7 linked regions of the Homo sapiens genome follow. The protein of the gene in region 1 purifies or fractionates together with the protein of each later gene. This does not show direct contact. Each region holds a gene or a part of one and is shown in the gene's direction. Other genes may lie near its edges.

What was found.
Region 2: the proteins of FOXN3 (region 1) and FOXO3B purify together in Homo sapiens (affinity purification with mass spectrometry, with the first as the bait; one large-scale study listed by BioGRID). This does not show direct contact.
Region 3: the proteins of FOXN3 (region 1) and SAP130 purify together in Homo sapiens (co-immunoprecipitation; one large-scale study listed by IntAct). This does not show direct contact.
Region 4: the proteins of FOXN3 (region 1) and CHSY1 purify together in Homo sapiens (affinity purification with mass spectrometry; one large-scale study listed by BioGRID and IntAct). This does not show direct contact.
Region 5: the proteins of FOXN3 (region 1) and ING2 purify together in Homo sapiens (co-immunoprecipitation; one large-scale study listed by IntAct). This does not show direct contact.
Region 6: the proteins of FOXN3 (region 1) and BPIFB1 purify together in Homo sapiens (affinity purification with mass spectrometry; one large-scale study listed by BioGRID and IntAct). This does not show direct contact.
Region 7: the proteins of FOXN3 (region 1) and HRNR purify together in Homo sapiens (affinity purification with mass spectrometry; one large-scale study listed by BioGRID and IntAct). This does not show direct contact.

Annotation. Positions count from the first base shown.
Region 1 is NC_000014.9:89,165,734-89,169,233, reverse strand, and holds part of FOXN3 (forkhead box protein N3), read left to right. Parts: intron 1-3,500.
Region 2 is NC_000017.11:18,679,515-18,683,579, reverse strand, and holds the start of FOXO3B (forkhead box protein O3B), read left to right. Parts: upstream 1-1,265; 5' UTR 1,266-1,376; intron 1,377-1,646; exon of another isoform or gene 1,647-1,733; 5' UTR 1,734-1,928; coding exon 1,929-1,965; intron 1,966-2,750; coding exon 2,751-2,839; intron 2,840-4,065. UniProt on the Homo sapiens protein: Transcription factor.
Region 3 is NC_000002.12:128,018,060-128,021,559, reverse strand, and holds part of SAP130 (histone deacetylase complex subunit SAP130), read left to right. Parts: intron 1-3,500. UniProt on the Homo sapiens protein: Acts as a transcriptional repressor. May function in the assembly and/or enzymatic activity of the mSin3A corepressor complex or in mediating interactions between the complex and other regulatory complexes.
Region 4 is NC_000015.10:101,245,549-101,249,048, reverse strand, and holds part of CHSY1 (chondroitin sulfate synthase 1), read left to right. Parts: intron 1-3,500. UniProt on the Homo sapiens protein: Has both beta-1,3-glucuronic acid and beta-1,4-N-acetylgalactosamine transferase activity. Transfers glucuronic acid (GlcUA) from UDP-GlcUA and N-acetylgalactosamine (GalNAc) from UDP-GalNAc to the non-reducing end of the elongating chondroitin polymer.
Region 5 is NC_000004.12:183,508,058-183,510,493, forward strand, and holds part of ING2 (inhibitor of growth protein 2), read left to right. Parts: intron 1-2,224; coding exon 2,225-2,436. UniProt on the Homo sapiens protein: Seems to be involved in p53/TP53 activation and p53/TP53-dependent apoptotic pathways, probably by enhancing acetylation of p53/TP53. Component of a mSin3A-like corepressor complex, which is probably involved in deacetylation of nucleosomal histones.
Region 6 is NC_000020.11:33,282,009-33,286,013, forward strand, and holds the start of BPIFB1 (BPI fold-containing family B member 1 precursor), read left to right. Parts: upstream 1-1,205; 5' UTR 1,206-1,246; intron 1,247-4,005. UniProt on the Homo sapiens protein: May play a role in innate immunity in mouth, nose and lungs. Binds bacterial lipopolysaccharide (LPS) and modulates the cellular responses to LPS.
Region 7 is NC_000001.11:152,217,694-152,221,193, reverse strand, and holds part of HRNR (hornerin), read left to right. Parts: coding exon 1-3,500. UniProt on the Homo sapiens protein: Component of the epidermal cornified cell envelopes.

The DNA of each region.
Region 1 (3,500 bases):
CCTGGGCTCAAGAGATTCACTTCCCTCAGCCTCCCAAAGTGCTGAGATTACAAATATGAGCTACAGCACCCAGCCTACATTTTCTGTACTGATCATTTCTGCTTACATCTCAGATCTTCCATTTTGGATCATTTTTCTCTTTCCTAAAATATATTCTTATGAAATTCCTACAGTAAGGGTTTATTTGTAGTTAAAGTCCTGAATTTTTGCCTGAAAAGTTATATTTTGCCCTTACCCTTAGAAGTTAGTGTTACTGAATATAAAATTCTAGATCGACAGTTATTTTCTCTCTTGAGAATATTGTTCCACTTTCTTCTGCTTCACTTGTTTTATCTTAATTAGTACTTTAGGCGATACGTTTTCTTTCTACTACTTTAAAAATCTTTTTGTCTTTTTTGTGTCTGCTCTAAAGTTTGACTGTGATGTGTCTCCGTATGGACTTTATTTTTTTTATCCCGCATGGGACGTGTTGGCTTTCTGAATCTGAAGATTGGTACCGTCATCAAAACTAGAAAATTCTAGCCATTTTCTATTCAAGTATTGAATCTTCTCCATTCTTTCTTTTCACTGGAACTCCAGTTAGGTTTCCGTTGGTTCTTCTTTCTGTGTTCCGTCTCATCCAACCTTTCTTCCATATTCTCTATCTCTGTGTCTTTCTGCTGCATTTTATGTAGTATCTTCAGGTCCATCTAACAATTCACTAATTTTTCTCTTCAGCTACATTGAGTTTTTTAGGAGACCTTCAGTGTAGATTAATTAATTTATTTTTGAGGCAGGGTCTTGCTATGTTGCCCAGGCTAGTCTTGATCCCCTGGGCTCAAGCGCTTCCTCTTCAGCCTCTTGAGTAGCTGAGATTACAGGTGTGAGCCACCACACTTTGCATTGATGTTTTTAATTTCCAGGATTATATGTTTTATCTCTAGAAGTTCTGTTTAGTGCTTTCCAATATAGCCTGATCTTCCTTTCTAGTATTTTTCAATTCCCTCCTTTATTTAAACATACTAACTTTACATTCTGTAACGAATTATTTCAACATTTATAGTCTTTGCCGTTCAGATTCTATCATTTCTCTGTTCTCTTGTCTCTTTGCTTATGGTGGCTTATTCCCATTGTGTTTAATGTTTTTAATTTTTGTTTTTTTATTATGAACCCATGTTCTTGAAATCTTATCTGTGGAAATTCCTTGTGGCTTGGGTTTAAAGTATGTTCTTTCAGAGAGGATTTGCTTTTAAAACTTCGGTGGGGAGCCTGGGGGACCAGTATACCTGGAGCCACTTGAACGCCCTTAGAGGGTACACAGTAAGCAGGAAGCAGCCAGCATCAACCTTCCTGCTGCTCCCTTCCTGCCTCCCACTGAGTGAGTTTGGGTTCTTGTTCTACTGCGAGGGCAGACGTTCGCTATAGAGAAACTTTGGCTTTCTTCGTTGCCTAGTTGCCTGATTGCTCACACTGCAGGTTACTTTAAAATGTTTTATTTGTGTGTATGTCTCTATGGGTCTCTGAATATCCCTTATTTTCTAGTGAACTCAGCAATGCCTTTAAAACAAGTTACTGTACTTGATCTAGGATCTTTTATATTATAGTCAGAAGAGAACCTTCCAAATGTCTTTCTACCACTTGGCTGGAGGTGGAAGTCTTTGGTCATCTCTTCTCTTCCATGTCTACTTGCAGTTGATTTTCAAAAGAAGCTTTGAACTTGCTCCAGTCCCCTGCTTCTACAATCCCATTAATCCCATCTACTTTTCACATTTGGCAAAAGATCAGAGTCCTCAACTAAATCCCTGGGGAGGACAACTACCCTACATGATATCCTTTAGAATTAGAGCCATTAGTTCCAGAGAGACTCCTAGTGCACCAGGTAAGAGGCAGAGATGACACATGCTCATTATACTGTAGTGGAACCCCTAATTAATTGGTTAAACAAATGAACAAACAAACAAAAAATGGCAGATGGCCATGTCGTAAACCTACACCTTGACTTGTTAGCTGAAAGCCTGCTCATTCTGGGTTTGAACTAATGTGATTTCTCTTTTTATGTTTGATATTTTCCAACTATTTGACAAGAGAATGAGTACCAGGTTTTATCTGAGATGAATAGCACGTGGTTTTGTTGAGCCACATGCTTTAAACTTTTAGAGGCCCAGTAAAATCAGGTGGCTCTGATTTATGCTAATTGCAATATCGTTACACATAAATTCAGCTAAAACTGAAAAATTGCAGGCATTTCGGATGTATCACATGTTCACTTTAATGAATGATTTTTAAGAAAGTGGTTAGAAATTCACCTTCCAACATGTTCAGAATGGCTGGTTTCTTTTAAGCATTTGTTGTCCTGTAATGGCAATCCCTGCGGCGGGAAACATTTGACACCAAGTCAGTGCAGCTGGCTTGCACCATCGTGAATAACATTGCACCAAGTTATTAATAATTGAAGGAGCTTTTCACTTCCTGCTGAGTTTTGTGTGTAACTTATGGATTACATAATCCCAAGCTAAAATCTCAGGGAAGGTTAATTTCATCAAATGAGAAAGAGAGACATTTATATTTTAATTCTCACTCCCTGAAGTTATGTCTGTGTACCTGTTTTCATCCAGAAATATTATCAGTGGATGTATTGGTTTTCTGTCTTCATCACAGTAAACTTCCTTCTTCAGGAGTGACAGGGAGATATTTTGAATTCCTGCTTGAACCATCTTTGAGACTGTCCGGGCCACCCCACTCAACAACCATGGGGCTCTCTGAGCTTCTGTTTTTCTGTGAAATGGGTTAAGTAGGCCAGTGTTCCAATAGGGACTTGGGTCATGGACTCTGTTGGCATGCAGTCTGATTCTAGGTGGTACCGGAAACTCTGCCCCACACAGCATCAAATCAGGGGCTGTGGAATCATTCTCTTTTCTATTCTCCCTTTAATCCATGGGATCTCTTTAAGAAGAAAGTTTCCATTTGGATCCCCCTCTTTAATGCTGCTAATCTCCCTGTTTAAGAAAGAAAGAGACATTCTCAGGCTCGAAACCATTCCTCTTATGATAGTGTGGAGCTCACGTTTAACATCATTGCTTTGGTTCTAGAGTATTTCTCCCCCTCCCTAAAACTTTGATTTAAAAAATGTTCAAACTTAGGAAAAAAGGGAAAGAAAAGCACAATGAATAGCACAGACCCTTCACCTAGATTCACCAGGAATCAGCACTGTGGAGCACTTGCTTTATTTCTCACTCTCCCACTCGTGATTCTCCCCATCTGTGTTCAGAGAGGGATCATGTTCTGCTTAACTGTGGTAGTGACGTGAGTTGTAAGCCCCAAGTTATTTTTTAAAAGAAACATTCAGAACTGAATCCATTTATTAAAAGCTAAATATAGCCCACTTTACTCTTTCAAGTATACTTAGATTTACTATGAAACTGTTTGATGTTAGTTCAGTGGGTGAATTATTTTTGTATTTTACAGTAGTTCCCTCAAATGGCAAAAATTAAAAGGACCATACAACGAGACTTTCATTTTCG
Region 2 (4,065 bases), on another chromosome or scaffold:
CTTGCAGGTTGTGGGACCAAGGGCCTTCGGTTCTTGCAGGCTATTGGCTGGAGGCCATCCTCAGTTCCTTGTCATATGGGCCTCCCCAACATCACCACCACTTCATCAAAGCCAGCAAGAGAGGAGTCTCCTAGCAAGACACACGTTAGACTTTTATGTCACCTTTATTGCACTGTATTGGTTAGAAGCAAGTCCCAGTCCATACACAAGAGGGGATTGCACAAAGGTGTAACTACCAGGTGGCTGAGATAACGGGAGTTACAAATCCCTTCTGGGAGCTGGAAATCATCTTTCCTTGAAGTTTCTAAAAGCCACTGAACGGTTTGAAGCACTAAAGTAATAGCATATTCTTGTTTTAGAAAGAGCACTAGCCAGAAAGTGTCGAGAACAGATTGGTGGTAGAGAAAACCTTAGTTAGGGAATCCAGTTACCAGGCTGCAACGGCAATCCTAGTGAAATGGTGGTGGCCCCAACTAAGGTAATGCTACTGGGAATAGAGAAAGATGGAAACAATTGAGTTATTTAAGATATAATGAATAGGACTTGGTGATAAATAGATGGTGAGATCAAAGAGTTAAGAATATTCAGGCTCTGGTTTGTGCAAATGAGTGAGTGGGCAGTAATGTCATTCACTGAGAAAAGGAGGGCAGTCTAGACACGAAGCTGGAGGTGGATGGGTTAGTCCTCTAACAGAATTGGAGAGACTGAATAACCCTCCCTTGAAAGAACCACCTTTTATGCTACGTTTAAACTAATGCTTATGTCTGCAAAGAACCTATTGCTTAAATTTGTTACAACAGGTTCAATCTTTTCAACTCGTTTTAAATACATGAATTTTAGGATTACAAGTAGTCTGTGGATACAGGAACATCTGACTGAGTGTACAAAGAGGGACCTGCTCTTCCTAAAAACATCCTTCGTATGTTTTGAAAGCAAAAGGATGAGTTCTGGGCGCACAAAATATGGATAAAAGCTATGTATTTTAACGTATCTTACACCGGAGTAATTTGGGTTGAACTCAGCAGCCCTAAGCACTGTGCCACAGGAACTTGTGCAGACAAAGCGCGGGGACGGACCCTGACTCCGGTCCGCGTCTCCGCTGCTCCCTCCCTCCCTTGCCCTGAGGATTAGACACAGGAGATGCTGCCTCATACTCTCGCGAGACGGACGGAGCTCTTCGATCGGCCGATTCTCCCAACCTCACCATGGGTGCTCCCACCTGCGGAGAACCGGAGTCTGGCGATGCCAAGGCGCTTCTGGGAATTGTAGTTCCGGGCGGAATGAGAGCAGCACGCCTGGCTCCGCTCCTTCTTACTCATGCGCGACTCCGAGCTGGCCAAAGAAGTTCGTCCCCTTTGTGAGGCCCGGGATGGGAGGTGAGTTGCTTGTGGTGATGTCTCTCGTCTCGGCTCGGCCTCGGCGGTAGTTCCCCGGGTCGTTCTGTGCCGAGTCGGGGCTAGAGTGCGCGTTTGTTAAAGGGGCCTCGAGGGCAGACCATGAGCCCTGTCCCTTCTCACTCTGGCCTGATCCTCTCCTCGGGGGACGCGGTTGTGCCACGGGCGGGGTGGTCGCGGGGTCCTGGGCCAGTGCCCCGAGCGCGGCAGAATTTGTCCAAACTCCTGATGCCCCAGCGTCACCTCTTCCAGGCGCCCGGTTCCCCCAGGGACAGCTTCAAGCGGTAGGGACAGACATCTGAGGACCCAGCCTCAGGGATGCTGTCCCCGGGCTTCCAGGCTCCAGCGCCGTAGGACTGAGGCAGACTCCACGGTGAGAAAGAGACCCGATCTAACCCAGGCCTTTCATCAGAGCCCAGGAGGGAAGGCAGGAAGTGGGACCACGAGGCCCGGGGGGCTTCTAACTCGTCTGGCCAGGGAGATCTGAATTGGGGTGAAGAGCAGAATCTCCAGAACAAGGAGGAGGTGGTGATCATGGAGACAGATTTGGCTGAAATGCCTGAGAAAGGAGGTGAGAATTGCGGACGTGTTGAACTTGTAGCGTGGAAGGACGAAATTCCTGCTCCTGAAGGGAAAACGGTTGGCTCAGGGGAGGTGGCTCTTGGCTGGCTGTCTCCATTGTCTTGGGGATGGATGGGCTTTTTAAGTGAGACTGAAGAGCTTGGTATGGGAGCACCGCCCTTTCCATGGCAGCTGGGCACACAGTGGACCCTTCAAAGCTACCCCCAAAATGTGAGTGAAATGTTAACTTCTATGGCAAGAATTCACCTCTTTGGTTGTCAAAAATGTTTTGTTTTACATAGGAGAAAACAGGCGTAGTAGTTAATGACTGACTTCCATTCTACCTGACCAGTTTCGTGAAGGTTGTGCTGTGACCTCCTACACCAGAATTCCCCCTGGGGTGGTTGTTAGATTTCTGGATTGTACCCCAGGCTCAACTAATGCTTATTACTTTGAGGTGGGGTCCAGCAATCTACATTATAAATAAGCTTTCAGAGTGAGAACCAACGAGTATAGATTAAGCTGGGAAATTTACTGACATATTCTAATTTCTAGATCAGAGGATGCCATCTTACAGAATGTGTTATGATTATAGCAACTGAATTCGAGCCCAGAGTAGCAATATTCCCGCATATCCCGGGAAGAGGGTCCTGGGAGGAGGTCGGTTGTTTTGGGGGTACCTTCAGTCTCAGTGTTTGTAGGCAGCACATATAGTATGTTGAAGCGGTTTTTAGACTTTAAATCTGAGTGGCACATTAAGCCTAGGTCTCATCATTACTGCTTTCTTGTCGTTAGTTCTGTCTTCCCAGGATTCTCCCCATTTCCAAGAGAAGAGCACAGAAGAGGGAGAAGTGGCTGCTCTGCGCCTCACGGCCAGATCCCAGGTGAGTGAGTCTGCTGATTATTGGAATTACACCTTGTTTCTTAGAGTACAGATGCACTCCCTTCTTTGTGATGTGGAGTTTCTTTATCCACTAAAGCCCATCTGCAGAGCTGAGTTCTAAATCTAAGAGACTAGTCAGGAGACTAATGGACTCAGAAGAAAATGTTTTCTACTTATAACACTGGATGGATTTCTTCCCTATTTAGTGTTTATTGTCCCTCAACAGATAGGTAAGCAGCATTTCCCTTTCTTAGCCTCCTATGCTCATTTCTGTGCTTGGTAATGTGAGAAACTATTTTAAATATAATGTGGCACATACCTCTTAAAACTTGTTTCTCTAGAGGAAACAGCATGTATGTGACTTTAAGTGGCAATCTAAGAAAGCACTTAAATGCTGAAGTGATTGTAAAAATAATAAATACTCACATAGTTCAAAGAAACACTGGAAAAGGAAAGCCTATGAAGGCGTAATTTAAAGAGTTACAGTTAGAATCCAGCCCTCTGAGATGACGAAAGCTAAGGTATGATCATGCCTGCAACTTACTTTTATATTGTTGGCCCCTCTCTCCCAAAAGGTAAATATGACAAATATTACGAATGTTTGGCTGGGCGTGGTGGCTCATGCCCGTAATTCCAGCACTTTGGGAGGCCAAGGCAGGTAGATGACTAGGTCAGGAGATTGAGACCATCCTGGCTAACACGGTGAAACCTCGTCTCTACTAAAAACACAAAAAATTAGCCAGGCATGGTGGCACGCACCTGTAGTCCCAGCTAGTCTGGAGGCTGAGGCAGGAGAATCACTTGAACCTAGGAGGTGGAGGTTGCAGTAAGCCGAGATCGCACCACTGCATTCCGGCCTGGGCAATGAGGGAAACTCTGTCTCAAAAAAAAAAAAAAGAATTTTTGAATTTAGGCGGTGATTGTACTATATCAGTGATTATTGCATTCATCTTTCAACTTTTGTATGTTTGAAACTTTTATTAAAAGAAGTTAGGGCTGGGCACGGTGGCTCATGCCTGTAATCCCAGCACTTTGAGAGGCTAAGGCGGGCAGATCACCTGAGGTCAGGAGTTCAAGACCAGCCTGACCAACATGGTGAAACCTCGTCTTTACTTAAAATACAAAAATTAGCTGGGCGTGGTGGCGCGCACTTGTAATCCCAGCCACTCCGTAGACTGAGGCATGAGAATCACTTGAACCCAGGAGGCAGAGGTTGCAGTGAGCCCA
Region 3 (3,500 bases), on another chromosome or scaffold:
ATCAAAATTTTAAAAATTCTGAATGACCTGGGAGAAAAGTCAATATATAGTGAAAAAGAAAACGTATATCAGTCTTTTCTTTCCTCTCTGTTTTTTTGTTTTTTTTTTTTTTTGAGATGGAGTCTTGTTCTGTCGCCCAGGCTGTAGTGCAGTGGCGCGATCTCGACTCACTGCAACCTCCACCTCCCGGGTTCAAGCAATTCTGCTGCCTCGGCCTCCCAAGTAGCTGGGACTATAGGCGCCCGCCACCATGCCCAGCTAATTTTTGTATTTTTAGTAGAGACAGGGTTTCACCATATTGTCCAGGCTGGTCTCAAACTCCTGACTTTGTGATCCGCCCGCCTTGGCCTCCCAAAGTGCTGGGATTACAGGCTTGAGCCACCACGCCCGGCCACATCACTCTTTTCATCCAGCACTTGTACTTTTAGGAATTTTTTCCTGAAGAGATCATTGGACAAGATTGTTGATAAAAGCAAAAATTTGGAAATAACCTAAAAGCCCATCAATGATACAGTGATTTTAAAAGCTATAGTACATCTATACAATAGAATCCCATTTCACTTTTTTTTTGAGACAGAGTCTTGCTTCGTTGCCCAGGCTGGAGTGCACAGTCTTGGCTCGCTGCAACCTCTGCCTCCTGGGTTCAAGTGATTCTTCCGCCTCAGCCTCCCGAGTAGGTGGGATTACAGGCAACCGCCATCATGCCCAGCTAATTTTTGTATTTTTGTGGAGACGGGGTTTCACCATGTTGGATGATGGTCTTGAACTCCTGACCTCAGGTGATCCACCTGCCTCAGCCTCCCAAAGTGCTGGGATTATAGACATGAGCCACTGTGCCCGGCCCCATTTCACCTTTAAAAAATGATGCAGTATTCTCTACCCAGTAGTTCTAATCCTAGGTATATATTGAGTAGAAGTGGTACATATGTTCACCAAAAGACACGTACAAGAACATTACTAGCACTATTCAAAATAGGAACAAACTGAAAACTAAAGTGCCTCTTAAGAGTAAAATGGATAATTTGTACGTTACTCGTGTGTCGTACTATATACAGCATTGAGAATGAAAGATCTACAGCTGTGTACACTAATGTGAATGAATCTCATACCTGTAAGTGAAAGAGGCAAAGCACAATAGGGTGTATTTGTTATAAGTCTGTTTACGTAAAGTTAAAAAACAGACAATACTAATCTATAGTGTTACAAGGTAGAAGATTGATTTCCTTCGGAGGATAGTGGCTAGAATAGGGCCAAACTAAGGGTCTCTGGGGGACCAATAATGTTTTCTATCTTGAGCTGGGTGCTATTTACTCAGGTTTATTCAGTTTGTGAAAGTCCATTGAGCTGCACAGCTAACATTTGTGCACTTATCTTTATGAAAATCATACTTCAAGAAAAAAAAGTCAAATGAATAAAAACCCAAAATTTAAAAGAAGCGAGAACTGTCACCAAAACTTTAAGTGTTGGTGCCTTTGTGGGGTAAGTTTGGGGGCAACATTACTTTGTTTATGGTACTCCAAATAATTTAAATTCTCTACATAAGTAAATATTATCTTTATGCTCAGAAAAAAAATTATTTTGGAAAAATTATAGACAAATATGAGTTAATATTTTCACAAGCTCTTCCTTTATTACATCAGTATTGTTCTCTGATTTTTTTCCACTTAATTTTTTTTTTTTGACACAGAGTTTTGCTCTTGTCCCCCAGGCTGGAGTGCAGTGGCAGGATCTCCCAACCTCCACCTCCCGGGCTCAAGCAATTCTCTGGCCTCAGCCTCCTGAGTATCTGGGATTACAGGTGTGCACCATCACACCTGGCTATTTTTTTGTATTTTTAGTAGAGACAGGGTTTCACCATGTTGGACAGGCTGATCTCGAACTCCTGACCTCAAGTGATCTCCCCACCTTGGCCTCCCAAAGTGCTGGGATTACAGGCGTGAACCACCACGCCCGGCCTCCACTGAATTTTTAAATACTTAATTTTTAAATAGGCCAGGTGCAGTGGCTCACACCTGTAATCTCAGCACTTTGGGAGGCCAGAGGTGGGAGGAACACTCGATCCCAGGTATTCAAGACCAGACCAGGCAACATAGTGGAACTCTTTCTTCATAAAAAAATAAAAGAATTAGCCAGGTGTGGTGGCATGTGCCTGTAGTCTTAGCTGCTTGGGCAGCGGAGGCAGAGGCTCACTTGAGTCCAAGAGTTTGAAGCTGCAGTGAGCTGATATCCTGTGACTTCGTTACAGCCTGGGAGACAGAGTGAGACCTTGTCTCAAAAAAAAAATTTTTTTTAATTAAAAAAAATTTTTAAATAGATTGTCTTCTGGTAGACCAAAACACCAAAAGAAAAAGAGCATACATTGGAAAATATCTCTCCTATCTCTGTCCCTCAGTTTTGAAAAATTATATGTTCTTAAAGTTAGGAACCGTACTTAAAATATCTTTTTTTTTTCTTTTTTTTGAGATGGAGCCTCACTCTTGTTACCCAGGTAGGAGTGCAGTGGCGCAATCTCAGCTCACTGCAGCCTCCCATCTCCTGGGTTCAAGTGATTCTCCTGCCTCATCTTCCCTAGTAGCTGAGATTATAGGTGTGTACCACCACGCCCGGCTAATTTTTTTGTATTTTTAGTAGAGACGGGGTTTCACCACGTTGGTCAGGCTGGCCTGGAACTCCTGACTTCAAATGATCCACCTGCCTTGGTTTCCCAAAGTGCTAGGATTACAGGCTGTGCTCAGCCCCCAACCACCTTTTTTTTTTTTTTTTGAGACAAAGTCTCACTGTGTCATCCAAGCTGGAGTGCAGTGGCACAATCATGGCTTGGCTCACTGCAGCCTTGACCTCCCAGGGTTAAGTGATCCTCCTCCCTCTGCCTCCAATATAGCTGGGATTACGGGTGCATGCCACCATGCCCATTTAATTTTAAAATTTTTTGCAGAGATGGAGTCTTACTGTGTTGCCAAGGCTGGTCTTGAACTCCTGGGTTCAAGGGATCTGTTTGCCTTGGCCTCTCAAAATGCTAGGATTGCAGGTGCAAGCCACTGCACCAGCCATCCTTTTTTTTTTTTTTTTTTTTTTTGGAGACAATCTTCCTCTCTCGCCCAGGCTAGAGTGCAGTGACGGAATCTTGGCTCACTGCAACCTCTGCCTTTTGGGCTCAGGTGATCCTCCCACCTTAGCCTCCCAAGTAGCTGGGATTACAAAAAAACGTGGTTTTTGGTTTTTGGTTTGTTTTTTTTTTTTTTTTTTGTATTTTTAGTAGAGATAGGGTTTTGCCATGTTGGCCAGCATAAAATATCTTTTTAATGTCAGGCTTTTATAACTTTCTAAGAGGATGTTTTAAATGAAATTGTCTTACATCCTGTATTGTACTTTTAACTATTTCAGCTCATTTTAGATGATTTTCAGGTAGTTTGTTCATAAGGCTACAATATCCAGAATAAATTCTATATTCCACAGTTGTGGCTCTTTTGTCTGATGTCCATCAGGAGAATCCAGTGCCC
Region 4 (3,500 bases), on another chromosome or scaffold:
GGCGGATCATGAGGTCAGGAGATCAAGACCATCCTGGCTAACACGGTGAAACCCCATCTCTACTGAAAATGCAAAAAAAAAAAAAAAAAAAAAAATTAGCCAGGCTTGGTGGCAGGTGCCTGTAGTCCCAGCTACTCGGGAGGCTGAGGCAGGAGAATGGCGTAAACCCAGGAGGCAGAGGTTGCTGTGACCCGAGATTGCGTCACTGCGCTCCATCCTGGGGGGCAGAGCAAGACTCCGTCTCAAAAAAAAGAAAATAAGTAAAAGAAAATGTAATGCAAACTAGAACTACTGTTTCACACTTGGAGATGGTTTTCCAAACTCGAGCTTAACGCTCTTACTTTTGGCCTCCTTTCCACATCTCTTCCCTCATCTTTTTCTGGATGTAAGACTTAATCTCATTGTTTATTTATTATTTTTTTTTCAGGTGGTTAGGGGAAAGCAGAAACACAGTTTGCCCCCAGGCGGGGTTCTCCCTTTCTTTTGACACCTCTGCCTTTCTGAGAAAGGAAAACGCCTACCAGGAGATAGTGTCCAGCTAATGTCACTCCAGCTCTCTCACAGAAGTTTCCTTTTATCTCTCAGATCTTAAGAAGTCAGAGTGCATGGAGCCTGGAGGTGGACCTGCCCTGCCAGTTAGGGTCCTTTGCCTCTTGCCTGCCAACCCTGTGTTTAGACTGACTGCAGGAGTTGGCACAAGACGATTTTAGCCTTAAGGCTAAAAGTTAAGGAACTTTTGGGGAGGGCCTCAATTGGGATGGAGGTTATAGGGTATAACATATGATTCCAGTTTTACTGTGCTTTGCAGCCCAGACCAAAAGTCCACACTGAGCTCTTAAATTGGAAATTCCATGCACAGTTCAGTATAAAAGTAAGCTTGACTCTTCTAGCACAAGGTAGAACTCTAGTTTGGAAATCGATGTGCTGAGCTTTACATTTCTCCTGAAAGGTAAATTCATTCTTCATCTTATCGAAAACTGTAGTTTTGTTTTTTAAAAAAAACAAAAAAACAACTGTTGTTTGGCTTATAGATGAAGGAGATGCCAGCACTTTCAGTAAGATGATACTTTGGTGTAGAATACTGAAAATGTCAGAATTTAGGTGAAGGGACTAGTAGCTAGCAACCTCTTCATTCCAACAACTCTGAGATCCAGAAAGGGGCTAAAAAAGCTTTTGAAAATCCAAGGAGATATGCCCGTCCACACTAAAGGCACAGCACTTTGATGATAGAACATCTCCATCATTACACATTTTTACTTTCTAGACCTGCCATCTGCTTGAGGGATGGATGGGGGCCACCAAGATATAGCAGGGCAGTGACAGCTGATAGCAGACAAGAAACAGATTTTTCAAAGCAGGCGAGACAAAACTCAAAATGTAGCAGGTGAGAGACCAGCCAGGGCTGAGCTTTGGAGGCCCTGAGTGACACAGTAGCTGTGGAGTTAATAGGAGTGATCCTGATTCGTTACTTAGGATCCATTTCTTTGTAAAGCACATGCATGCATGGCCCCTCTGGCCCCCGACCCTGAGTCCTGGGGGACACTGCAGTACACGGCTTGCTGTCATGTTCTTTAGTCAGAGGGACGACACTAAAAAGAGGGTTTCTGCTAGTGATGGATGCTGTAGAGAAAATAGAACAGGGTTGGGGCAGGGCAAGTGTGTCCTCTCTGTGTTAGGTGATTAGGGAAGAGTTTGGAGAGAGTGCCATTTGGGCTGAGATTTGATCATGAAGAGCCAGTTGTGTGAATATCATTGATGAGCATGAGGGCCAAGGAAGCACCGGGAAGTCCCAAGGCAGGGACCGGCTTGGAAAGGAACACCAAGAAGGCCAGTAAAAGAAAGAAAGCCAAGAAGGCCAGTAAAAGAAGAGCCCCAAGAAGGGGCTCGCTAGTGTCCAGTCTTGTAAAGTTTCATTCTGAGTGAATTAGAAAGCCACTGGAGGGTTTATGCAGGAAAAGGAGGTGGGTAGCTGGGGTTCTGTAAGTTAACACATAAAATAATTTATTTTGACTCATCTGCAAGTGTGTGTTCTAGGTAATTTCGCTTTAAAATGGTACTGTGATTCCTCTGAAGTCATTTATTATGCAAATTAAGGACAGCTTGTCAGAACCTCTGGGTTTCTTGTGTCTTGCATTACTAGCTGCAATTCGTATTTTTCCCATATTTAAACATTTTCTTTTTAGTTATGTTCTGTGATATATGGAAGGGAAATGTTCATGTAGTTCAGTCTATGTCTTTCCCTTTCTGATTTTAGTTTTCTCTACCCCAGGTTCACAGTTACTGCCCTGGAGAGATTTTTAAAGGTAACGTTTCCTTCCTAATTCTAGAAAGGGTAGAAATCATCTCAACTTTATTTTTTCCCCAAATAGTATGTGGTCGCAGCACCATGTACCGTTGACTAAGTTCTCATTTCCCTACCAGTTTGAAATGCCATCTTCGTCATGCTCAGAATTCTTGGGTATGTTTCTGGACTTCATGTTTTGTTCCGTTGAACTTTCTGTCTGTTCTTGTGCCAGTACCACCCATTGAAATTATTGGAGGTTGAATAATATTTTAATATCCGGTGGACAAGTTCCCCTTTGTTATTCATCTGCTTCAAACATTTCTTGGCTACACTTACCTTTTCTTGCTGAGAGAGTTTCTGTGCTATTTAGATTTTTTTAATCAACGTTTTGATTAAAAAAAAAAAAAAGCCACACGTATTTTGCTTATTCGTCCATTTTTATGCCCAGAACCTTGAGCTAATCCAACACCTTTTGTTTGTTTTGGTTCTTACCCTCTCTGGGCTGAAGATGGGGAATAGTTTTGTTCTTTTTTTATGTTGTCAGAAGAAAGAGGTGGATGGTTTCCCTTCTTTGCGCCAAGATTGAACAAGGGCACCATTACAGATTAGCATCAGTCTGTAGGGGACTGTGGGAAGAAAGTTTGAGAAGCATTACCTAGAGATATAGGAATCTGATTTCAGGATACTATTATCAGTGAATGATCTCTTCCTAATGCCTTAAATGAAGACGGACTGTTCCTCTACCAACCTTAATGAGATCCTCCTATCTTATAAATCTGAATTCATTTCCTTATTTCTTGAGCTAAGTAAACCATGTTTATCTTGAAACAGTTCAGAGCAGTCCTCACTTTCTTAGATAGAATTCAACTTGGCAAACATTTATACAGAAGGCTTTTCCATGTAAAATCCAAATAATCAACCTGTAAGTGAACTTTTGGAGCACCAAGTCATTTCAGATCGTGAATTTCCTGTAGGAGACTAGGGAACCATGTGGCTCTGAAAATGAGTGTAGTTTTTTATGTCAGGTTCAAGATCTTGAAGCGCTCAAACAATATTCCAGGGATTTCCAGGGATGGCTGTGGCTGTCAATAGCGGATTGATTCCAGGGATAGATGTGGCTGTCAATAGCGGATTGTGCGTGACTGTTTCCATTGCACCGGCAGCTTCACGTTCCCCTGTCTGTTAACTAAGCTGCTCTTTATTAACAGTAGATTCC
Region 5 (2,436 bases), on another chromosome or scaffold:
AGACATACAGATCTGGCACAGTTCAAAGTCTGGGGTTCTTATCTCTTGAGTTGCAGTTTTTTTCACAAGCAGAAGTGATGGCTTCCTCATGGGGTTGCTGTGGAGATTAACTGAGAAAATCTTTACCACATAGAAGGGGCTGAGTAAATGTTAATTTCTTGTCTTCTTTCACTATATAATACGGTATCTTACAAATTTTTTATCTCATCTATCAATGTGCTGGTATGATATATACTGTACTTAGCCTCTAACACCTGATTATTAGGTACAAAATATTTGAAAAGAGGTTTGCCTCTTTTTTTTTTAATCCTCAATTTTTTATGTGTCTGAGGGAACCAGTTTCCTTATTTTTCCTGTAGGGAAATGAGGTTCTTAAGAAATCTGCTTAGATGCCGAGCTAAGCAAATGGAATAGACATGAACTTTGTTCGAAAATATGCTATGCAGGTGTAAGTACTCTGAACTGTGTGGTGGCACTTTGTTATATATTCCAAGTTAGACAGTTGTACATCAAGTACGAGTACCTGCGATTTCCAGGGAGAAGCTGATTAATGAGTTCTGTTGAATATTTGCTTTTGTGTGCCTTACTTGCAGACAGCCCCAATGTATATATCTACTTGCCTAACATTTCTGTTTTTAATAATTATAATATTGGAATATAAAACTAGTATGCCATGTGGTATGAAAAATACCATGCGGACAGAACTCTTTGAGATAGCATTACATCTTGTAAGAATAAGAAATAAAACGGATTCGAGCAAAACTAATCTTAAGTAAATTTTTGGTGACATCTGAAATTATATTTTCAGATTTTTGGATACCTTCTAGTGACTCAGCTATTTTTACTTGATTTAAGTAAGTGTATTCCACGTGCCATACAACTAAATCAGCAGTTCAGAAAGCTCAGAACCAACTACTGATTTATCTACAAAGGCAGAATGATCGAGTGCTGACTTTATTGTAATTTTGTTAGTGGTTTGGTCAGTTGATGCCAGAACCAGAACCTACTCTGGAAATAGTTTCATTTTCAGAATTTCCCATGTGAGGCTAAAGTAGAGCCATTAAAAGTAAGATGATGGGAAGCTAAGAGTTGCTTATGCCTTCTTTGTTAAGAATGTATGATGTGAAAGTGAAGCTATATCTCCGGAGTCATGTCACAAGTCATTGTCACAAGTCATTGATTGGACTGTAAATCCTGTAAACACAGTTGGGCAGTAATCTGTAGCCTAGTCCTGTAACCTTTTCAAGTTTTAGAGCTGGACCCCAGCCTGCACATTTTATATATAGGGTTGTTTTGAAGGTGTTACAGTACTTAGTAGACTAAAGTGGCATTCAGTGTTCCTGCCCATGAGAAATACTTTTGATCATTAATTAGCCAAACATCTCTTATCCTTTTTTTTTTTTTTTGAGACGGAGTCTTGCTCTGTCTCCCAGGCTGGAGTGCAGTGGCGCGATCTCGGCTCACTGCAAGCTCCGCCTCCAGGGTTCTCGCCATTCTCCTGCCTCAGCCTCCTGAGTAGCTGGGACTACAGGCGCCCGCCACTGCGCCCGGCTAATTTTTTTTGTATTTTTAGTAGAGACGGGGTTTCACCGTGGTCTCGATCTCCTGACCTCGTGATCCACCCGCCTCGGCCTCCCAAAGTGCTGGGATTACAAGCGTGAGCCACCGCGCCTGGCCTTTTTTTTTTTTTTTTTGAGATGGAGTTTTGCTCTGTCGCCCAGACCGGAGTGCAGCGGTGCGATCTCGGCTCACGGCAACCTCCGCCTTCCGGGTTCAAGCAGTTCTCTGCCTCAGCCTCCCAAGTAGCTGAAATGATGAGGGGCGCCTGCCACCATGCCCGGCTAATTTTTGCATTTTTAGTAGAGACAGGGTTTCACTATCTTGGCCAGGTTGGTCTTGAACTCCTGACCTCAGGTGATCCACCTGCCTCGGCTTCCCAAAGTGCTGGGATTACAGGCGTGAGCCACCGCGCCCAGCCTCTTTTTAATATAGATTAATGAGTATTAGTTTTGTGTTCTTTCTTTTCATTACTTTATTTCTAACTATACTTTCATATTAGATAATGTGGTCTTTGTATGAAATAGTTTTTAATGTATATGTACCAAAGAGGAGTATGGTTTCATGGTTTGAGTTCTAATTTCAATTCTGTAAAAAATAACTACCTTGGAAATGTTGTGTCTGCTAACACATGATAACGTTCTCATTTTTCTTTTCCTTTTTTTAGAAACGTTAAAGGAAATTGATGATGTCTACGAAAAATATAAGAAAGAAGATGATTTAAACCAGAAGAAACGTCTACAGCAGCTTCTCCAGAGAGCACTAATTAATAGTCAAGAATTGGGAGATGAAAAAATACAGATTGTTACACAAATGCTCGAATTGGTGGAAAATCGGGCAAGACAAATGGAGTTACACTCACAGTGTTTCCAAGATCCT
Region 6 (4,005 bases), on another chromosome or scaffold:
TTGTTCTTCTTGTCAAAAAGCAGGAGGAAGAGACCAGCCAGGGCCTGGCCACGTACTTTGTGACCTCAGAACACTTACTGCCCCTGACTTGTCTGCTGCAGATGGAGACAGGATTCAACAATGGCCATCCCAGCTCTAAACCACAATTCCATTCTTCTAGACAAAAACTGGGTAGCAAGGATAATTCCCCAGATGACATCAAAAGGCCATGTTGGTGTCACCACCACCTCCAGTGCTAAATTGAAGTCTCAGGGGAAGGACAGTGTGGCGGTTAAGAGGGTCCGGTCTGGACTGATGATCGGGTTCAGGTCCCAAAGCTGGAATCCCTGGTCATGTGACCTTGAGCAAGTCACTCGCCTCTCTGAGCCTCAGGTGCCCTCTGTAACATTAACGCTGCTGATGCCCACCTCTGGGTGACTGTGCAGGCTGCGTGAGCCAAGACCTGGGCCCAGGTGGTGGATGACAGCGTCCTGCTGGGCTCTGACATTTGTCCTTTAGGTTCATGGTCATCCCTCCTTATTCTTTTGGTCCACAAGTGCTCATGGAGATTCCTAAAGATGCAGACAAGGTAGAGCAGATTTTAATTGCTGCGGAATGAATGAATGAATGAAATGAAAGCCCATGCTAAGCACTGTGTAGGCATGCACTTCAACTCATGCTCTTAACAACCTATGAGGAGGAGCTACTATTATCCCCATGCTATAGATGAGGTCATTGGGGCCCAGAGAGGTGAAGTACCTTGCCCAAGGGCACACAGCAAAGCAGTGGCAAAAATAGGATTCAAATCTATTCTCCTGGGTGAATTAATTGATGGAGATGTGTATCTTTGATGTATTTAGGAATAAGGGGTGGGTAAGGCTACTCCTTCCTTTTCCCAAATTGATTATCTGGATTAAACAATTGTTGTAATCCCTCTACAAAGGCTCATCCTATTATAAGCAATAATAATATTAATGGCAACGGCCACTCACATTTATGGAGTGCTTATTCTGCTATATGCACTGTGCTTCTCTCAGCCTGGACCTTCCTTTCTCCAAACCTCAGGAAGCTGGAGTCCCAAGGCTGCCTCCGGGCGGGGCTGTGGTTCAGCAGAAGCCACAAATATTTACCTTGGAGACCTCGGCCTGGTCTGAGGCCTCTGCCTAAAGACAAAGCCTGTGCTGGGGTGTGCAGGATATAAGGTTGGACTTCCAGACCCACTGCCCGGGAGAGGAGAGGAGCGGGCCGAGGACTCCAGCGTGCCCAGGTAAAAGTAGGGAAGGGGCTGAAAGCCAAGGTTGCCAGGAAGGTTCTGAGCTAGAGATACCTGTTGGGGTCAGGTCAGGAGCACAGGGGAGGCTCGCCCTCAGGGAAGGGCCCTCGGTGAGTCAGGATCCGCTGAGGGTCAGGGCCAGGTGTAGAGAGATGCCCAGCTCCCTCGCCCAGAGGACCAAAGGGCAGTGACGAAGGGATGGGGCTGGCTGAGTGTTTTCCTGACCTCTTCCTAGTGACATAAACCCACTCTGCACATACCAGTTGCTCTGTCCCAGCTGTGCTGCGGTGGTGCTGGGACAAAAGAAGCATGAGACGCAGACTCTGTCCCTCAAAGAACTCCCAGTGCAGGACAATGTGGTGCCCAAGGAAGACCCAGGGACATGGGAGTGGAGGACAGTCAAAGAAGGGATCCTGGAAGAGGTGATGTGTTGGTTGCAAAGCCGAGTAGAAGGCGATTGGGCAAAGGAGGAGAGAAAGATATTCCACGAAGGGGAACTAGCAGAAGCAAAGGCTGGGAGAGGAGGTGCCATATGACAGGGGCGTGTGTGGTGCCTGGATCTGGGGGAGGAGAGTCTTTTCCACAGGAGGGAAACAGGGATGCTACCATCCTCGTGGGTCCCTGGGTTTCTCTGATCCAAAGAGGACTGAGCAGTGTGTACAGATAATGCAGGACAGACAGAGTCAAGGTATTTGCAAGGAAAATATGGAGTGGGGCCACAGGGGTGCCTGGATGCCGGGGTTCAGCTCTGTCTTCTGGCTTTGGCTGCAAGGTGTCTCCTTCTGACTCCAATATTAGTAATAATACCTGTCATAATTATCGTGGAAGCTACCATCTACTGAACGCTTGGCCATGCCAGGCCACAAATAGATTGTCTCATTTAATCTTCCCAAAAAGCCTATGACATAAGTACTATAATTATTCCCCATTTTATAGATGAGTAAATGGAGGCTCAGAAAGGGTAAGTCACTTGTCAAAGATCACAGAGCAAGTGGTAGAGGCAGGCCTCCAACTAGGGTTCATCTGGCTGCCAAGCCAATAATATTTTCCCCTCCACCTTCAGGCCTCCTAACACTAACCTTTTCAGCTTAGCAGGCTCAGATTTCCAATTCTTTCGGGGCTTCCAGAGGCTATGCAATTATTCAGCAGCCATTTATTAAGCACCTGGTCTATGCCAACCACTATACTGGATGCCAGGGACACAGCAGGGAGCAGGCAGACCCAGCCCTCCCTCCCAGAGCTCACAGCTTGGTCAGGGAAGCAGAGGCTGAATCATTATTGCAAGGGTCTCAGAAGAGCTCACACTGCTCCAGGGCACAGGAGACACATGTCATCCGGATGCCACATTTGTCTTTGGCAAAAAGAAATCCACATGCTGAACCAAGCGAGGGGCTCAGATCTCTGCAGCGTCTCCCCTCCCTCCAAGCAGGACAGTCCACAGGGGCAGGAGCTTCCATGGGGGGCTGGCAGACAGAGCCAGGGTGCAAGCTGGAGAGCTCAGGACTGGACTACAGATGTTGATGCCACACCCCTGTGGAGGGAGGGGACAGAGCAGCCAAGGGGCCAGAATACCCCCAAGCTCCTCTCCCTGGCATGAGCCACAGGGCCCTTTCTCTCTCTCTCTTTCTCTCTCTCTCTCTCTGCCCTTCTTTTCCTGGCTCCAAGAAGCCATTCAGTCCCTCCCCAGCCCCCTTAGTATTGCAGATTAAGCAAAGAGCTTTTTCACAACTTTGAGTCCTACCTGGCTCCTCATTTCCTTCCTGCCTCCAACCTTCATGTCTTGGGCCCCAGGACAACATTTCTCCAAGTGTGGTCCAGGTTCCCTGTCTGCAGGACAGGGGAAGCTTTATAGGGAAAGTGACAAATCTTGGCAGGGTTTTAAAGGATGAATAGGAGTTCATCAGGGAGATATGGGAGGAGAAAAGCATTCCAGGAAGCAAGGAAGAGCAAGAGCAAAGGCACGGACACAGGAGAGAACACAGTATGTTCTGAGACCTTCCAACTGCTTGGAACTTGCTAGAACAAGGGGAGAGAAAGCAGGAGGTGAGGTCAGCAGACGGTGAACCATAGAGGGTTTTAAGTGTCAGACTGAGGGGTGGGAGACACGGGAAGCAGAAGTTCTTTGTTCTGAGCATTGTTGCTGGATTTTCTGTAAGAAAATAGCTAATACAGGCTGGGCGCGGTGGCTCACGCCTGTAATCCCAGCACTTTGGGAGGCCGAGGTGGGCAGATCACGAGGTCAGGAGATCGAGACCATCCTGGCTAACACGGTGAAACCCCGTCTCTACTAAAAATACAAAAAAAAAAATTAGCCTGGCGCGGTGGTGGGTGTCTGTAGTCCCAACTACTCAGGAGGCTGAGGCAGGAGAATGGTGTGAACTCAGGAGGTGGAGCTTGCAGTGAGCCGAGATGGCACCACTGCACTCCAGCCTGGGTGACAGAGCGAGACTCTGTCTCAAAAAAAAAAAAAAAGAAAGAAAATAGCTAATACATTCCAAGTGCTTACCATGTGAAAGACACCGTGCTAAATGCTTTCCAGATATTAACTCACTTAATCCCTCAACTCTGGGAAGCTGGGGTCATTATCCCCATTTGTCTGATAAGAAAACTGAGGCACAAAGAGGTTACGTTGATTGCCTAAGGCTACACAGCTAGCCCAGGCAGTTAAACACTGCACTCAACAGCCTCTCCTGGACACCGTGCCCCAGGTCACCGGGCATCATGGGCCTGCCCTTGGCCCCTCTGCCTCAGGT
Region 7 (3,500 bases), on another chromosome or scaffold:
GGAAGTCTTAAACCTGGGACTGAATCCATATCCAGAAGACTGAGTTTTCAAAGAGACTTTTCTGGCCAACATAACTCCTACTCAGGTCAGTCTTCCAGCTATGGTGAGCAAAACTCCGACTCCCATCAGTCTTCAGGCCGCGGCCAATGTGGGTCTGGGTCAGGGCAGTCTCCCAACTATGGCCAACACGGCTCTGGCTCCGGACAGTCTTCCAGCAATGACACACATGGGTCTGGCTCAGGCCAGTCTTCTGGCTTTAGTCAACACAAGTCTAGCTCAGGGCAGTCCTCTGGTTACAGTCAGCATGGATCTGGCTCAGGTCACTCCTCTGGCTACGGACAACACGGCTCTAGGTCAGGACAGTCATCTAGGGGTGAACGACACAGATCTAGCTCAGGTTCGTCTTCCAGCTATGGTCAGCATGGGTCTGGTTCCCGTCAGTCTTTGGGCCACGGCCGACAAGGGTCTGGATCTCGCCAGTCTCCTAGCCACGTCCGACATGGGTCCGGTTCGGGGCACTCCTCCAGCCACGGCCAACACGGGTCTGGCTCAAGTTACTCTTACAGCCGTGGCCATTATGAGTCTGGCTCAGGCCAGACTTCTGGCTTTGGGCAACATGAGTCTGGCTCAGGACAGTCCTCTGGCTATAGTAAGCATGGTTCTGGCTCAGGTCACTCCTCTAGCCAGGGACAACATGGATCTACGTCAGGGCAGGCATCAAGCTCTGGCCAACATGGCTCCAGCTCACGTCAGTCTTCCAGCTATGGTCAGCATGAGTCTGCCTCCCGTCACTCTTCAGGCCGCGGCCAACACAGCTCTGGATCTGGCCAGTCTCCAGGCCACGGCCAGCGTGGGTCTGGGTCAGGGCAGTCTCCCAGCTCCGGCCAACATGGGACTGGCTTTGGTCGATCTTCCAGCAGTGGCCCATATGTGTCTGGTTCAGGCTACTCTTCTGGCTTTGGTCACCACGAGTCTAGCTCAGAGCATTCCTCTGGTTACACTCAGCATGGATCTGGCTCAGGTCACTCCTCCGGCCACGGACAACACGGCTCTAGGTCAGGACAGTCATCTAGGGGTGAACGACAAGGATCTAGTGCAGGTTCATCTTCCAGCTATGGTCAGCATGGGTCTGGCTCCCGTCAATCTTTGGGACACAGCCGACATGGGTCTGGATCTGGCCAGTCTCCTAGCCCTAGCCGTGGCCGACATGAGTCTGGTTCCAGGCAGTCTTCCAGCTATGGCCCACATGGGTATGGCTCAGGGAGGTCTTCAAGCCGTGGCCCATATGAGTCTGGCTCCGGTCACTCTTCTGGCTTAGGTCACCAAGAGTCTCGCTCAGGACAGTCCTCTGGCTACGGTCAACACGGATCTAGCTCGGGTCATTCCTCTACCCATGGGCAACATGGTTCTACATCAGGACAGTCATCGAGCTGTGGCCAACATGGAGCTACCTCAGGTCAGTCTTCCAGCCACGGTCAGCATGGCTCTGGCTCAAGTCAGTCTTCTCGCTATGGCCAACAGGGCTCTGGATCTGGCCAGTCTCCTAGTCGCGGCCGACATGGGTCCGATTTTGGGCACTCTTCCAGCTACGGCCAACATGGGTCTGGCTCCGGTTGGTCTTCAAGCAATGGCCCACATGGGTCTGTCTCAGGCCAGTCTTCCGGCTTTGGTCACAAGTCTGGCTCAGGGCAGTCCTCTGGTTACAGTCAGCATGGATCTGGCTCAAGTCACTCCTCCGGCTACAGAAAACACGGCTCTAGGTCAGGACAGTCATCTAGGAGTGAACAACACGGATCTAGCTCAGGTTTGTCTTCCAGCTATGGTCAGCATGGGTCGGGCTCCCATCAATCTTCGGGCCACGGCCGACAAGGGTCTGGATCTGGCCACTCTCCTAGCCGTGTCCGACATGGGTCCAGTTCAGGGCACTCCTCCAGCCACGGCCAACACGGGTCTGGCACAAGTTGTTCTTCCAGCTGTGGCCATTATGAGTCTGGCTCAGGCCAGGCTTCTGGTTTTGGGCAACACGAGTCTGGCTCAGGACAGGGCTATAGTCAGCATGGTTCTGCCTCAGGTCACTTCTCTAGCCAGGGACGACATGGATCTACGTCAGGGCAGTCATCAAGCTCCGGCCAACATGACTCTAGCTCAGGTCAATCTTCCAGCTATGGTCAGCATGAGTCTGCCTCCCATCACGCTTCGGGCCGCGGCCGACATGGCTCTGGATCTGGCCAGTCTCCAGGCCACGGCCAGCGTGGGTCTGGGTCAGGGCAGTCTCCCAGCTATGGCCGACATGGGTCTGGCTCCGGTCGGTCTTCCAGCAGTGGCCGACATGGGTCTGGCTCAGGCCAGTCTTCTGGCTTTGGTCACAAGTCTAGCTCAGGGCAGTCCTCTGGTTACACTCAGCATGGATCTGGCTCAGGTCACTCCTCCAGCTACGAACAACACGGCTCTAGGTCAGGACAGTCATCTAGGAGCGAACAACATGGATCTAGCTCAGGTTCGTCTTCCAGCTATGGTCAGCATGGGTCTGGCTCCCGTCAGTCTTTGGGCCACGGCCAACATGGGTCTGGATCTGGCCAGTCTCCTAGCCCTAGCCGTGGCCGACATGGGTCTGGTTCCGGGCAGTCTTCCAGCTATGGCCCATATAGGTCTGGCTCAGGGTGGTCTTCAAGCCGTGGCCCATATGAGTCTGGCTCCGGTCACTCTTCTGGCTTAGGTCACCGAGAGTCTCGCTCAGGACAGTCCTCTGGCTACGGTCAACATGGATCTAGCTCAGGTCATTCCTCTACCCATGGGCAACACGGTTCTACATCAGGACAGTCATCGAGCTGTGGCCAACATGGAGCTAGCTCAGGTCAGTCTTCCAGCCACGGTCAGCATGGCTCTGGCTCAAGTCAGTCTTCTGGCTATGGCCGACAGGGCTCTGGATCTGGCCAGTCTCCAGGCCACGGCCAGCGTGGGTCTGGGTCAAGGCAGTCTCCCAGCTACGGCCGACATGGGTCTGGCTCCGGTCGGTCTTCCAGCAGTGGCCAACATGGGTCTGGCTTAGGCGAGTCTTCTGGCTTTGGTCACCACGAGTCTAGCTCAGGGCAGTCCTCTAGTTACAGTCAGCATGGGTCTGGCTCAGGTCACTCCTCTGGCTACGGACAACACGGCTCTAGATCAGGACAGTCATCTAGGGGTGAACGACACGGATCTAGCTCAGGTTCGTCTTCCCACTATGGTCAGCATGGGTCTGGCTCCCGTCAGTCTTCGGGCCACGGCCGACAAGGGTCTGGATCTGGCCATTCCCCTAGCCGCGGCCGACATGGGTCCGGTTTGGGGCACTCCTCCAGCCACGGCCAACATGGGTCTGGCTCAGGTCGTTCTTCCAGCCGTGGCCCATATGAGTCTCGCTCGGGTCACTCTTCTGTCTTTGGTCAACATGAGTCTGGCTCAGGACATTCCTCTGCTTACAGTCAGCATGGTAGTGGCTCAGGGCACTTCTGTAGCCAAGGACA